2 separate regions of the Homo sapiens genome follow, and region 2 is linked to region 1. A link means that fine-mapping ties the variant in region 1 to the expression of a gene that starts in the linked region. Tissue or cell type: blood mononuclear cells. Region 1 holds a variant in brackets; the other region holds the start of a gene. All regions are shown on one strand. Distances are between the middles of the regions.

Region 1 (8,107 bases):
CAGCAATTTTGAACTTTACAACAAATTATTGTTAACTATAGTTACCCTACTATACTAGAGTGGTTGGTTAATGGATACAAAAACATCATTTTATATATATGTATGTATATATTTTAAGACAGTATATCACTCTGTCTCCCAGGCTGGAGTACAGTGGTGCAGTCATGGCAGCCTTGAACTCCTGGGCTCAAGTGATCCTCCCCGCTCAGCCTCCCAAGTAGCTGGGACTACAGGTGTATGCCACCATGCCTGGCTAATTTTTTTTTTTTAATTATAAGTAAGGGATCTCACCATGTTGCCCAGGCTGATCTCGAACTCCTGGCCTCCCAAAGTGCTGAAATTTTAAGCATGAGCCACCAGACCTGGCCACATTTGGCTCTTTAATAGTTACTTGTTTAAAAATAGCTACAAAGCAGCTATTACAAATGTGTTTTAAAAATTAAGGTAAAATGTTTAAAGAATTAAAAGCATGACTTTTTTTTTAACCAGAGATTCATCATTGATCATGTATTCTTTTTTTTTCCTTTACTCTAAAAAAAAAAAATACATGTGCAGAACATGCAGATTTGTTACCTAGGTATATGTGTGCCATGGTGGTTTGCTGCACCTATTGACCCATCCTCTTAAGTTCCCTCCCCTCACCCCAAACCCCCAACAGGCCCTGGTGTGTGTTGTTCCCCTCTCTGTGTCCATGTGTTCCCAATGTTCAGCTCCCAATGTTCTCACTCACTTATGAGTGAGAACATGCAGTGTTTTGTTTCCTGTTCCTGTGATAGTTTGCTGAGGATGATGGCTTCTAGCTTCATCCACATCCCTTGCAAAGGACATGATCTCATTCTTTTTTATGGCTGCATAGTATTCCATGGTGTGTATGTACCACATTTTCTTTATCTAGTCTATCATTAATGGGCATTTGAGTTGGTTCCATGTCTTTGCTATTGTAAATAGTGCTGCAGGAAACATACGTGTGCATGTGTATTTATAGCAGATTGATTCATAATCCTTTGACTATATACCCAGTAATGGGATTGCCTGGTCAGATGGTATTTCTGTTTCCAGATCCTTGAGGAATCGCCATACTGTCTTCCACAATGGTTGAACTAATTTACATTCCCACCAACAGTGGAAAAGCATTCCTATTTCTCCTCAACCTCGCCAGCAACTATTGTTTCCTGACTTTTTAATAATCACGTGAGATGATTGGCGTGAGATGGTATCTCATTGTGGTTTTGATTTGCATTTCTCTAATGACCAGTGATGTTGAGCTTTTTTCATATGTTTGTTGGTCACATAAATGTCTCCTTTTTAGAAGTGTCTGTTCATGTCCTTTGCCCACTTTTTGTTGGGGTTGTTTGTTTCTTGTTGGGGTTGTTTAAGTTCCTTGTAAATCTGGATATTAGACCTTTGTCAGATGGGTAGATTGCAAAAGTTTTCTCCCATTCTGTAGGTTGCCTGTTCACTCTGATGATAGTTTATTTTGCTGTGCAGAAGCTCTTTAGCTTAATTAGATCCCATTTGTCAATTCTGGTTTTTGTTGCAATTGCTTTTGGCGTTTTTGTCATAAAGTCTTTTCCTATGCCTATGTCCTAAATGGTATTGCCTAGGTTTTCTTCTAGGGTTTTTATGGTTTTGGGTTTTACATTTAAGTCTTTAATCCATCTTGAGTTAATTTTTGTATAAGGTGTAAGGAAGGGGTCCAGTTTCAGTTTTCTGCATATGGCTAGCCAGTTCTCCCAGCACCATTTACTGAATAGGAGATCCTTTCCCCATTGCTCGTTTTCGTCAGGAAAAACGTGACTATTTTAAAATAGCAACTATAATACAATATTCCCTGTTGAGTCATTGTCATCATATTTTCATCTTATTTTTTTCTTTTCCATATATTTTTCTGGTAAATATTTTTTGTCTGGTAAGAACACAGGAAGGTAAGATATACTCAACAAATTTTTAAGTGCACAATACAGTGTTGTTAACTATACATACAGTGTTTTACATCAGATCTCTAGAACGTTTTCATCTTGAGTAACTAAAACATTATACCTGTTGAACAGTAACTCCCCATTTCCCCTGACAGCCCCCTTCTATTCTGTTTCTGTGAGTTTGACTATTTTAGAAATCTCATGTAAGTGAAATCATGCAGTATTTGTCCTTTTGTGACTTTTAGTCTTTATTCAACATCCAAGCACATGCATAGTTTTTCTTGACAGCTTTTTTCTTTGATATAAATCAGACTTTCTGTTTCTTTACATACGCTATAAATTTGTTGAAAACTGGAAATTTTACGTAACATATTGTGGCAACTCTGGATTTGGTATTTGTTCCCCTGGGGGTTGTTATTGCTGGTTTATTATTATTGTTGTGTTGTTTCATTATTTGCTTAGACTTTATCTGCAAAATCCTCTATGGTGTGTGCCTGCTGATTTCTCCACTGTTGTTTTAATTTGCATTTCTAGTTTTTAGCTGGTCATTTTAGGGGATTTCTATGCATCTGTATTGCTTAATGATTATTCAATTATTGGTTGAAGGCTGTATTGAAAAACCTTGAGTCAGTAGGTCTTCATCCTATGCTGATGTGTCTGTGCATTCAATGTTCAGGCAATTTTCCAGTCTTCCTCCACTTTGCTTCCCTCTGAGCGCTTCCAGGTCTTCCTGCTCATGTGCACATCCTCATTAGTTCAGGGATATGTGGTGAGCATGGGCTTTCTTAGGTTTTCCCTACATATGCACACAGCCTCCCACTCCAGCAGAGATATGCGGAGAGCTTATTTAGCCCCTCATTTCTAGACTTTCTTCCTGTTAATTTAAAAATTAGTCTGCCCATCTCTTGCCCCAAATGGGACTGCAATCTCAGACTAGCGGAGCTATGCATCTTCCCTGTTTTTGTCCCTCTAACTTTACTGTTTTTAACTAACCCTACTACTGGGCATGGGCTCCTTTCCTTCTACTCCAAATCAAGTGAGCCCACTGTAGCAGAGAGGCTGCTAATGTTCACTGTCATTCCTACACTGTTAGCACTACCTCACTGATCAAGCTGGGGAGCGGAATGGGAGCAGCCCCTGGTAAGAACGCCTCAGAGTCTCACTGATCTTCCAAAGTTCAGCAGCTTCTCAATTTTGGTTGTTTCCCTTTGGTTGATTTTTGGAGCCCTGAAATGGTTGTTTTTCTTCTTTTTTCAGTTTTGTAGTAATTTTTTTTGGGGGGGGCCGGTGGGGAGCTTCTTCACTCCAGTATCACCAGAAATTTCCTTATTTTTATTTATTTGTTACGTACTGGAGTAATCTCTTTTCTGTGTATTTATTAATTTTTTCTTTATTTTCCCCAACTTTTTATATTGAAAATCTTCATAATCTGTAGAAAATAAACACCTATATACCCTGCATTTAGATTTACCAATTGTTTACTTTCTACATTTGTTTTATATTTGTCTGTAAATATACATATGTATGCATGTACATAGTATGTACATGTATATAAAAACATTTTTCCTTAACCATGAAGATTATTTGCAGACACCCTGAGTATTCCTTCCTAAATACTTCAGCATACATTTTCTAAGAACAAAAACATTTTATTTCTTAAATACAATTGTCATATTTAGGACATTGAATATTGATAAATATTTATATACATATACACTTAAAAAATTTTTTTTATTTAGGAGATGGGATCTTGCTCTGTCACCCAGGCTGGAGAGCAGTTGCTCAAATCACTGCAACTGAACCGAGACTTCAACTGTTGGGTTCAAATGATCCTCCCCGCTCAGCCTCTTGAATAGCTGGGACTACAGGTACACAGCACTGCACTTGGCTAATTTTTAAATATTTTTGTAGACACAGTGTCTCGCTATGTTGCCTGGGCTGGTCTCAAACTCCTGGGCTCAAGCAATCCTCCCACCTTAGCCTTCGAAAGTGTTGAGATTACAGGCGTGAGCCACTGTGCCCAGCCAACATACATACATTCTATATTCAAATTGCCCTAATTGTGACAATAATGTGTTATAACTTTTTTTTAGATCTTTGCTGTTCACCTTCAAGCTGAGGACTTACCACTTTTCTTCGATTATGAAAAATGCTCAGCCAATAGCTATTCATTAAACAAATATTTATGAGGTGTCAACAACTGATTGTTAATGTTCTAGGGTGATACAATGCTTATCAAAACATGAGTTTCTACCTTCATGGTTCACACTCTAGTCAGGGGAGACAGTAAATACACATAACTTATGTAGTATGTTAGAAGTTGGTAAGTGCTATGGAGAAAATAAGGGCAGGTAAGGGTAAAAAGAGGAGTAAAGAGGGAGTGGTTACAAATTTAAATAGAATAGTGAGGGTTGGTCACGCTGAGATGGTAACATTTGGGTAAAGATTAGAAGGAAGCCACTCTAACTCCACCATTCCTTCTGTTTCCTGCTTCTGGAACTTCTCTTAGACATAGCCCCATCCTCGTTTCTCTTCATTGTTCTTTTGTATACTTTTATTTTTCTGTGCTACTTTGTGGAGGTCTTTTTTCACTGGAAGTACTATCTTCCAGTTTGCTAATTCTGTCTTTGTTTGTTTAATTTATTGAGTTTTGAAATTTCACTTCCGGGATTTCTAGTTGGTGTTTTTACACCTAGACTTTTTGTAAAATTTCTACCTGTTTAGTAATCTTGTTTTCTAATAGATTCTAT[G/T]TATTTATATTTTTAAAGACTAAGAAATTCTTAAAGTTACTTCTAGAGTAATTTATCATGTCACTTGGGAGTGAGTTCATATCCAAATTGTTGCTTTTTGTTTGTTTGTTTTTGCCTTACACAGAATTAGTTTCCCCCACGCGTGTGGAATTTTGGCTTGCAGTCTAACTTGCAGTCTAACAGTGAAGAAGATTTTTTTTCTCCTTCTGAGTTCTCTCCCACCACTGTCTAGTTCTTTTGGTTGCCTCCATATGGGCTCCATATAGTACCCAGTCCAAGACTGGGTCTTACATAGGTGATTTCTGATCTAGTGGGGCTATTCTAAAGCTAGTCACTGAGCCAGCAGGCAGCTTGGCCCAGTTCCTGGCTGCAAAGCTCTGCCTTTAACCTCTAGGCTCTCTAGATACATAGTTTTAATATAACTTGTGGCCTCAGGTGGAGAGTGTAGCTTTTTCAGCCTCCCTGAGGTAAGGAACCCCTACCTGGACTACTGCTTTAGACAGCAAGCTTGTCCTTTGTTCCTTTCCTCAGTTGGATGCTTTTAGTCCTTATTATTCTGCAGAAACTCCTGGCCACCTTTACTACTTTTGGTTTTTTTTTTTTTTAAGCCGAGTCTCACTGTGTCGCCCAGGCTGGAGTGCAGTGACGCAGTCTTGGCTCACTGCAATCTCCACCTCCAGGTTCAAGCGATTCTCCTGCCTCAGCCTCCTGAGTGGCTGGGACTACAGACACGCACCACCACTCCTGGCTAATTTTTGTATTTTTAGTAGAGATGGGGTTTCACCATATTGGCCAGGCTGGTCTCGAACTCCTGACCTCAAGTGATCCACCCACCTCAGCCTCCCAAAGTGCTAGGATTACAGGCATGAGCCACCGTACCAGGCCTACCTTTACTACATTTAGATACAGAACAGGTAGTACCTTACTTTTCAAGTCCTCAGGGACATTTTGTGTTTTAAAAGTCTTTTTTCTCTATATACTTTTTCCATCATTGTTATATGTTGGTAGATGTTGGGTCCTTCCAAAGTGTAAACTTAGAATGCCATCAAGGACCTAAAGTCTGCTTTGTCATTAGCTCTGTGTCTTAGCTGTTTCTGTAGCCTGTCTGGGCCTCAGTGTTTGCTATTATTAAGGTTTAGGCATATGATTACCTAAAGATTCAGGTAAACCAGATTTAAAAGTATGTGAAGGCCGGGCGCGGTGGCTCACGCCTGTAATCCCAGCACTTTGGGAGACTGAGGCGGGCCCATCACCTGAGGTCAGGAGTTCAAGACCAGCCTAGTCAACATGGTGAAACCCCGTTTCTACTAAAAATACAAAAATTAGACAGGTGTGGTGGTGGGCGCCTATAATCCCAGCTACTCGGGAGGCTGAGGCAGGAGAATTGCTTGAACCTGGGGGGCAGAGGTTGCAGTGAGCCGAGATTGTGCCATTGCACTCCAGCCTGGATAAAAAAGCGAAACTCCCTCTAAAAAAAAAAAAAAATAAATAATAAAAAAAAAAGAGTACATGAAGAATAGTGAGATAGGTAAATTGAGGCTAGATCATGATCATGGATGGTCTTGGATGTCAAAGCCAAAGAATTCGAAATTTGGTTCATAGAAAAGGGAGAGTTGTTGAAGTTTTGGTAGCATGATTTAGAGAGATTAGGGAAGCCATATAATAGGAGGACTTGGAGGAACAGAGCAAACAGCCAAGGAACCAGGAGGACAATGTCCAAGGACAGTCAGGCAAGGAACAAGGCCAGAGCCAGGGTAGATGTGGTGGAAATGAAGAGGTGACAAGATTGAGAATATGACACACCCATGCTTCCAGGACCTACTGAGAAGGGATTTAGAGCCTGGGTGTTTGTGAAGATGACTCTGCTATCAACAGTACTGGAGAATCAAGACAGGGTGGATTGAAGGGACCATGCTCTCCCTTGAGTACTGAAGTGCACAGTCCTTTGGTGGGCACAGTCATGAGAACAACTAATTTACAGATGCTAACTTGATGATGAGCATTGTGCCAAGCACTTCACTAACTCCTTTAATCCTCACAACAGCTTTTTGAGTGAGGCTCTGTATAAGCACTTTATGGTTGGCTAAAATCAAGGCTTAGAGAAGATAAGTAATTTGTTCATGGTTAACACAAGCTTGCAGCAGGCAAAGCCAAAAGTTATACCCAAGTCTTTTTTTTTTTTTTTTTTGTCTATGAAGTATGTATTATTTTGGCAAGTGATTTTTTCCTTCCTAAGAATAAGATGAACATGTCCAAATGTTACCTGTGCCAACTTCACAGATACAGAAGTATCTAGTCTTCATTTCCTCAATGCCCCAATTAGATGGTTCTAGTAAACGAATCAATATAGTTAAAAAAAAAAAATACAGGTTCAACAAAAGAGCACCATCCTATTAGGGAACTGAGTAACATGTGAAAATGAAGTTGTCATTATAATCAAAATGTTGCCCAAATTCTAACAAACCCAAGCTGTTATACTAGTACATGGACGCAGTCCATAGTGTTAACCTAAAGAACTCTGGGACAAGAACATTATTTGAAAAATAAACTCCAAAATTATACCTGTAATAAATGGTGAGACAGACCAATTTTAAAGCACAAGTGACATGTTACACTGTATTGCTTCTTGAACTTTCCAAACAATGCTTGTCCATGTCAGGTTTGGGCCATTCTCCTGCTAAGACAGAGAGCATTGTATTTATTCAAAAGCCCAGATTTCAATATCTTGGATAAAGAAATCTTCCTTCTTAGAAAGTGTACGATTCCCAAACGTTTTACAAGAATGGCTTCTTGCATGGTAGAGATCTCCATCAAGCCAAAGGGCAAATTCTCCTCCTCCACCACCGAAAGCTAGTGAATCCATGTCTCCTTTGATAAAAAACATGTTATCTCCTGTCCACTTAAAGACCTCAAACTCTGGACAGAATGTAAAAACAAAGGTCTCTCCAGTACCATAAAAGCCATCACTCACTTTAAATGGCTCAGCTGCTAACGCACCAAAAACCTGTCCATCACTGTCTTTAATTACCATCAGCACTGGGGTGTCTAAACCTGTCATTGTTCGATAAAGAGTTTTCAAGCAAGCTTGTGCCATGTTTTCCAGTACCATAAACAAGAGTCCGTGGATAGCCAATTGTTCTTGGTGGAAGATGCTTGGTAAGCTTTTCAATTTGATCTGGCAGTAAACTTTTCATTTGAGAATAGGTTTAGGTTTACCAAAAAGTTGCAAAGATATACAGAGTCTCTATACCTCTCACCCAGACTCCTCTGTTGTTAATGTCTTACATCACTATGGTAACTTTTTCACAACTAAGGAACCAACATTACATTTAAATATAGATGTATTTTTTTTTTCTTGTGACGCTAGAGGCCATGGCTTTAATCCCTATACTGTCTTTATTTGGTTTGGCTTACAGGTGAGCTGGAATTTATTTTAAA
Region 2 (8,107 bases), 83 kb before region 1:
CTCCCAAGTAGCTGGGACTACAGGCATGTGCCACCACGCCTTGCTAATTTTTATATTTTTGGTAGAGACGGGGTTTCGCCATGTTGCCTGGGTTGGTCTCAAACTCCTGACCTCAGGTGATCTGCCGGGCTTAGCCTCCCAAAGTGCTGGGATTACAGACATGAGCCATGGCGCCCCACCCAAATGTATATTATTTTAAAGTCGCTATAGAAAAAGTGAAAATATTTAAAGTAGTTAACACTACATAGAGTTGGTTTAATCAAACAACTCACAATAAGCTTACTTGATATTGATGAAGCCAAACATAGTTAATAAATAAACAGTAATAACAGCTCGTAAAGACCATGACTTCCTGGGGGAATGGTGCTATTAACATCCTCCTTCCAAAACTGGGAATTCCAATTACCTTCAACTGTGCATGAGCAAGAGCTTTGTAATATTGCACATCCAAATGATGATCATTCTTGATAAACCCGAAAAATGCACTCATTTTAATTTACAAATTCTTAACATTAGTAACTTCCTATATCTTACTTGGTGGATTTCTAATTGTATGTAAAAATAAAAATCTACAAATTATTTTCCTATGATAATTGAAGAAATGCCTTGGGCATTTGTATCATTTAATACAAATGAGGTATACCAGTGGACCATGGCCCTATTTGGAGTATCACTGGTCTAGACTTTTCAAATATAATCACTAAAAATGTATCTTAGTCATGAATGTTTGGTTGCCAAGAATGTAAACCTACCTTTATTAACTTCTTAGGGCTACTGTAACCAATACCGCAAACAACAGAAGTTTATTCTCTCACAGTTCTGGAAGATAGAAGTCTGAAATCAAGATGTGGTAGGGCCATGCTCCCTCCAAAGGCTCTAGGGAAAAATCCTTTCTTGTCTCTTCCAGCATCTGGTGGCCCCAGACGTTCCTTGGCCTATGGCAATCTAACCCCAATCACCACCTTTACCCTCACATGGCTGTCTTCTCCCTATGTGTCTCTTTGTGTCCTCTCTTCTTATGAAGACACCAGTCATTAGACTTAAGGCTGATAGCACTTTGCATAGCACTTCTGTGATGACATTGCTTTAACCTGATAGCTTTGACACCAAAAAAGAGGAAAAGGGAGAAATGATGGTTTAGCTTTACCTAAGTTTAATCCCGAATGAGCTCATATTAAACAATTGTATCAGCAAAAACCATATTTCCAAATAAAGTCACATTCTGAAGTTCTAGGTGGACATGAAATTTTAGGGAACATGATTCAACCTCTACAATGACCCAAGCCAGCTCAAGTCAAAAAGTTTTTAAGGTTTAGTTATCACAGAATGCAAGGAAAAGCTAAACTGTCTGGCTTTTCAAAGTACAGGAACCAGACAGATACATGGCTTTCAGTGGCAAAAGTTCATGATCTTCAGTCTAGGGTCTACCATGTATATGACACAGTTATGGAGGAAGCATATTTCCCATAAAATACAGGCAAGTGTAATAAAAGTCTGCTTCTCCTCTGTATGGCTACCACCTTGCTCAGTTTTGTGGAATCTTAGTTATCTGGGAAGGGAATACGATTGGCCCAGCTTGGGTCTAGTGTTCCCCTTTGATTCAGTCAAGTCTGGCCAGGACCGTGGGTGGTAGGATGGTGATGGTGGTGAGGTCATAATGACTGTGAGCAGGAGCAGATTCTGTGAGAAGGGACTTGAGCAGAGTGGGCATTTTGATCCACATGTCAATATTAAATGATCCCAGCACAGTGTTTGGCACAAAGTAGGTGTTCCCAAAATACTGTTGAATAAGATGTAAATAATGGTCTGATCTTCCTTGGTTCTTTCCAAGTACTCCTGTTCCATCTCTAGCACTTCCTATTTTTGTCCTGTTCTCATGAAGCCATATCCTTTGTGTAGACTCTTTGTTTGTCCCATCCCATAAGCTCCTGTTGCCCTCGGCACACATTCACCCTTGTCTTTCTCTGCCATCCACTCCCAGAACACCTTCCTGGTTTTTCCTTACTACCTCAGACCCCAGTGTGTACTCTAATCCAATAAGCCATAGTACATAGAAACACAATGGAAAATAATGTTTTTACATTTAAAAGCTGTTTCTCACAATCTCATCTCATTTTTTTTTGGCCACAATCCTGAGAAGTGGGTATTATCATCCCTATTTTCAGATAAGGACTTTGAGGCTTTTGAGTGTTAAATTGTTATGGACAATGCTAGTAGGTAGGAGAACTGGGACTTGAACTCAGATCTTCTTACTCTAAGTTCTGTGTTCCTTTGAAGATAGTACTCCTTGATGATAGCACTTTGGATAGCACTCCTGTGATGACATTGCTTTGACCTGATAGCTTTGACACCAAAAAGGAGGAAAAAGGAGAAATAATGGTTTAGCTTTACCTTTATAAATGCTTGTTAGTGGGAGGGACCCCATCTCATCAACAATGTGACATTTTCTCTTGAAATGTCTCACCCAGCTCATAGGTGTGCCCATTTAAAACATGCAAGGTAAACATCGAGCCAACGTTTCACAAATAATCTTTTGTCCAGCATTTGAGATCTTTGGCAGTTTTACTTTCTTCTCCCACACTTGCCTTTCTTATCCCAGAATGCCTCTGTCTGCTTGTGTTTCTTTGGATGTTAGATTCATTCCTTGTGCACACCATTACCTGACCTCTGTAGAATGCCCTTCCTATTCTCCCAGGCTTAAAGCTCTTCTATGGACCACCTCCTTCCTGCCTTCTTCTCCAGACTTACATCTAAATGTAAGATTCCTGCACTTTTGCTGGTCTGGCCTTTAAATTGCACTCATGCTAATCAACTGACCTGTTGAGCTCTCTCCTTCTCTTCTTCCTTGAACCTGCCTTGATAGATTCATCTTTAGGTGTTCACTTTCCCTAGAATTATTGCCTATTCTACTCTTATTACACTTAGTAAACAATTTTTATTATTATTTATCTTTCTACGTAAGCATCTTGTAACTCAGAGTGTTGGTACCTTGAGCATAGGGGTCCTACCCTGCACCTAGGCCAGGACTTAAACAGGATAGGTGGTCAAAGAAATTTAGTTGAATATATCCATAACTCCACCAAAAACCATTTTTAGAGGCATGGCAGGATGGGAGGTTGATTTATTCTTTATTTTCCCTCTTTGTCACGTATATGCTAGTCTCACTAAAATATTTTGTATGTAGTGATGAGCTCTGGGTTTGGAGATAAAGGACCTGGTTTCAGATTCTGTCTGCCTTGTATTAGCTGTGTAGCCTTGGACAAGTCATTTAATTTATTTTTATGTAAGTTTCTTCAACTGGAAAATGGGTAGGAATACCTGTCCTAACCCCCCACAGTGTTGTAGTGAGAACCAAATGAGATGATGCTTGTGAAAGAATTTACCAATCTGTAAAGCACTGTGTAATGGATTATAAACACTGCCTCCTCATGTGCTTACCCTGACACGTTTTATGCTTTCATCCTTCTAAGAAGCAGTTGTTTGTGCATGGGGATCACCTGGCATTCTTGCTGCAGCACTCCATCATAACCCTCAGCACAGAATGCAACATACAGTTTGCCAATCGACTTCAGTGGGATGTGAAAAGTGAAAAGTGCATTTAATTCTCACTAAGATGCCTTGGCTCAGATTCAACAAATGCCATTTACTTGAAGGCCTTTTATTTGCTTTTTCTGCCTGCCCCCCTGCCAAAATCTTCATCTATTTGTTCATTTATTCATTTACTCATTTAACATAATTGTTTTGAGTGCCTACCAGGGTCATGTTAGACACCCAAGAAGTAAAGTGAGTACTTCAAGATATTCACGTTGTACTGAGTGTAAGACACACAAAAACTTACAGTAGATAAAAGAACTATAATAGGATATATAGGATACACTGTGTACAGAGGTAGGAAAGATCATTTTTGCGAAGTGAGGGAGTGTGTGTCATGAAAGGCTTCAAAGGAGGTGCTAGTCTGTCTTCAAAACTAAGTAGCAGGAGAAGGTAGAGGCGATGCAGGTGAAAGAAACAGCTTTCACAGCAGGTGAAAGAAAAAAAGCGCTCTGGGAACCATTGTTAGCTCAGGCTGTGATTTCGTTCATTCTATTACAGTGGGTTAAATTACCTGTTGTTTGCCAAACCCTATACCAGTTTATGGGGTTACAGGGGTCAGTGTAGGCATCATGGGGGCGGACGGTGAAGTAGCAAAGGAAAACCAGCCACAGTATGAAGAGCCTCGAACAACCATTTTACTCCGTGCCAGTACACATGGGAAAGGGTTGAAAGGATATGTGAACCTGCCGCCACCAATTCCTTGATTATTCACTGGAACCCTTTCAGCCAGAGAAGATAGACACAGTACTGGGCTTTACTGAGGACTGGGTGGCGCTGTCTTTAGGGGCAGGTTAATAATATACACCTAAGTGACAAGAACACTCACACCCGAGGAAATTAGAGTAGTAAATAGACACGTGGAAAAATGTGCCATCTTATCAGTAATTAAAGAAGCAAAAATGTAAACAAAGCGGCACCTAGTAAGGTAGAAGACAAAGCAAAATATCTAAGGCTGTTAAATAATGGGGAAGCAGGCGCCTTAGAAAACAAGGGCAAATGTAAAAAACCTCTAAGGCAAGAGTTCGGTGGGGAATCTGCGGGATTCTGTGTGCTGAAGCGCAGGAGGCACGAGTCACCTTTGCAGTCTCCGGTACCAAACGGGCAAGGGGTCCCCGTAAGACTGCTGCACCCTGGCCGAAGGTAGCGGGTGAAGCGCCTCGGCGTCTCTAGGCAACCGATCAGCCCGCCCACTCCGGGGTGACTTCCTCGTAATTGGCTCTCGAATCCACCAATGGGCGCACAGGGGGAGCTTCCCGCCACCTCTGGCGCCCGCTTTCAAACAGCCGTACTTTGCAACTGCAGGTGGACTTCTCAACCAAGCTTGAGGAAGGCGGAGACTTCTGCCTCCTCGCTCTGCCCTGAGCTGGCACGGCTCCGCCCACCGGGCGAGCTTCTAGTCGGCGATTGAAGGATGCGAGTGCTCCTTAAGGGCCTCCGCCCCGTGAGTTCGGTTGTGACTAGGAAGGAGCTAGTGGACTAGAGCCAGGGTAAGGGGATCTGCTAGAAGTTGGTCTTCCGCCAGGACTAGAGTTTCCTCGCGGTAACAGCCTCCGTGGCCTCCGGTAAGTTCTGATTCACGGGTGAGCTTGGACCTGGGGTTAGAGGAGTTGCGGGGTCCTCGGGATGCTGGCTGAGGGTTCCTGGGGGGGCTGACCTGCCCCCTCCCCAAATCCCGCGGTGGTGGACTGCCCGCATGTTGCGGGCTCAGCTTTTACCTTAACGTGTCATTTAGACCTCTTCATTCCTCCAATATCCTACTTAGAAGTGACATATGGGAAGCCCGCCTCGTTTCCAGGCTGCTGGGGTCGCCCTGAGACCCTACTCTGCGGACCCCGCCTTGGTCACCCTGGCGTCACGCCTGGCTCACAGTAGGTGCTCTGTGCACGTGTGTTGACCGAGTACAAGTGACGCTGGCACCCGAAGCCAGTAGCCCCGGGCATCCTGGGCCCCGTGCGGCTTTGGTCATGTTTGTAGTGCCGTAGCTGACGCCAAACAGTTCCTCAAGGTCATTCGCTCAGCCTGTGGATGCTTATTGTGTATTAGCATTACTCGCTCCGCCCTCTGGGCAACTTGAATCAATTTGTCCAAAGTGCTGTTATTAGCACTGATCACAAGATGTTGTGATCATTTGTTTATATGTCTATTTTCTTTCCCTTCATCGTGTCCTGTTAAACTTTGTAATCTTGAACAGTGCTTGGTAAATTGTCGAATGAATGAATAAGGTGTCTCCACCAGGTGTTGCAAGTCTAAACCGGGCTATGTGCTCTGGCTATTTCCATTCTAGAAGGCGAGTTATGTCAGCAAGTAAGTAGAATTTCCCAACTCCAAGTGCAGTTCTTAGAAACCCCTTTTGTGGGGGTTTATAACCCTTCCTATATCGTAGTCATGAACTTGAGTCTGATTTAAGCCTATTATCACCTTATACCTTCATAGTGCGTGACAATGAACATGCACTCCCTAGACAGGTGAATGCACTCAACTAAAGAGAAGCTGAAGTTGAAGCCATAAGAAAAGCATAAGAAATACAGTCTGAAAGTGCAAAGGAGTGGCCAGCTCCATGGGGGAACAGGCTTGGGAGGGCATCTTGAAGGAGGGTGGCATTTTTGTTCCATAGGAGGTTGCATTATTAGAAGTGACATTTCTCATAGGCTGCACATTCACCTTTTCTCAGATATGCGGAATCCTCTTTATTCCCTAAACCTCTTCGGTAGCTGGCAGACTCCTATTCATCAGTAATAATGTCATAATAGTAATAAAACTACAATGTATTGATTGGTACATAGTGCTAATTACTTTACATGTAGTATCTTGTGAATCCTCAGAATCAATCTTTGAAGTAGGTATTATTTTTACCCCCATTTCTTTAACGTAGAAGCAGAAACAGTTTGCTCAAGATTGCACTGCTGATAAATAGAAGAGCCAGAATTGAGCCCAGGTTGTCTGAATGAGTGCCCTCATTCTTAGAACCACTTATAGCCATATTGTGTCCTTTAAGATTTATTTCTAATCTAAAAGCTCTTTTTTTTCTGTAAAACTTCTCTAAACTATCCTTTCTTCTTAGGAAAAGTAATTTGTGCTTTGTACTTTCATCTACTACGGAATTTATTACAATATGTTATTGTAACTGTTTATATCAGTGGCTCTATCTAAGAGAGGGTGAGCAGAGACAGTGAGCTCCTCATGGCTGGTACCATGTCTTAGGTGCATCTAGGATATGATCTGGAACACAGTGGGTATTCAATAAAATTTTATTGAAGTAATGAATTCGTATAAGGTAACATGCCTATATCATATTCAGTCAACAAATATTTGTTATGTACCCACCATGTGCAAGCAGGCAGATACATTTTAATTCTGCCTTCAGGGTGCTTATAGTTTATTAGATGAAGCAAAAACAATGCTACTTTTGCTTTGTAATCTTTTGTCCAAATACCCATTGCTTTTGTTGCAAGGAGGGCAGAGAAAACAACCGGGGACAACAAAAGGAATGCTGGGTCAGAGCATCCATCTGAGTGTAACAACAAGACATACTTTTTATAGTCTTGTTAAGGGTTCAGAAAAAGTTATCTAGGAAGAAAGTCTACCAGACTGCTATTGAAGAAGAAAACCAAAACATACTGTATACTTAATCTGCATCTTGATTTCTCAAGTGGTCAGCCTTGAGTCAATAGATATAGAAAATTTTCAGTATTTTTACTAGTGGCATAGTATTGACAAATTAATTCAAAATAATTTTACTAGTGTAAATGTTAATTTTCAATATATTAATATTGATAGTTTTCAAGATGGTTTAGCAGTTGATATTTTCACCAGCAACTCATGAGCCATACAAAATACAAAATAGTCACCACTGGGTGATAACAAGTTTTTTTTTTGTTTGTTTGTTTTTTCAATCTAGTGGTTGAAAATGGCATATTGTTTAAATGACACTTCTTTGAAACATCACGAGCTTAAGCATCTTTTCAAACTAATTGATTTACACTTTTTAAAATAAATTGTCATGTCAGTCGCCCAATTTTATATTGGATTGTCTTTTTCTCATTTCTTTGTAATAATTTTATATTGGGACTTTGTCAGGTGCTTTGCAAATTTTTTTTATTCTTATTTTTCTTGACTTTGTTATTGATGTATTTTTTCATATATAATATTTGACTCGTTAATGATGTCTTTTGCCTTAAACAAAATTTTATTTTTTGTGGTTAGGTTTCCATCACATTTTTCTTTATGGCTTTTGGATTTACTATCTTGCTATTTTTTTTTTTTAAAGAAGTCTCTTTTGTTGTTCTGAATATTATACTAAAGTCTCTGGTAGCAGTGATAATGAGTGGTGATTAATAAGTTAAGGTATTAGCTTTTATTTTAAGTCTCATTTAAAATATGTATTACCTTTTTACTATATATATTTTTAACCACATTAAGTTGATCAGGTTTCCCTTTATGTCTGAAATCATTTCTTAAAGTCTTTTATAGTTTATAGTTCTGATAAGGAAAACTTATACCTTCTTCAGTGGGG

What was found. PIP is the estimated chance that this variant, and not a neighbour inherited with it, causes the effect.
Region 2: CEP152 starts here. The variant in region 1 is fine-mapped to the expression of CEP152 in blood mononuclear cells (TOPMed, PIP above 0.99).

What each region holds. Positions count from the first base shown.
Region 1 is chr15:48,725,092-48,733,198 of GRCh38, reverse strand. It overlaps the pseudogene LOC645405 and a transcript of CEP152 not described here. Among named protein-coding and RNA genes, the nearest start is that of CEP152, 82 kb to the left of the region's middle. The variant G/T (reference allele first, on the strand shown) is at 4,670.
Region 2 is chr15:48,808,010-48,816,116 of GRCh38, reverse strand. It overlaps CEP152 (centrosomal protein 152), which reads left to right and starts at 5,048. Exons shown (of 27, transcript NM_001194998.2): 1 at 5,048-5,156. LOC124903487 (a long non-coding RNA gene) reads right to left here and starts at 5,419. Exons shown (of 2, transcript XR_007064626.1): 1 at 5,310-5,419; 2 at 4,208-5,186. RefSeq lists enhancers at 4,619-4,678, 5,337-5,898 and a silencer at 4,854-5,044.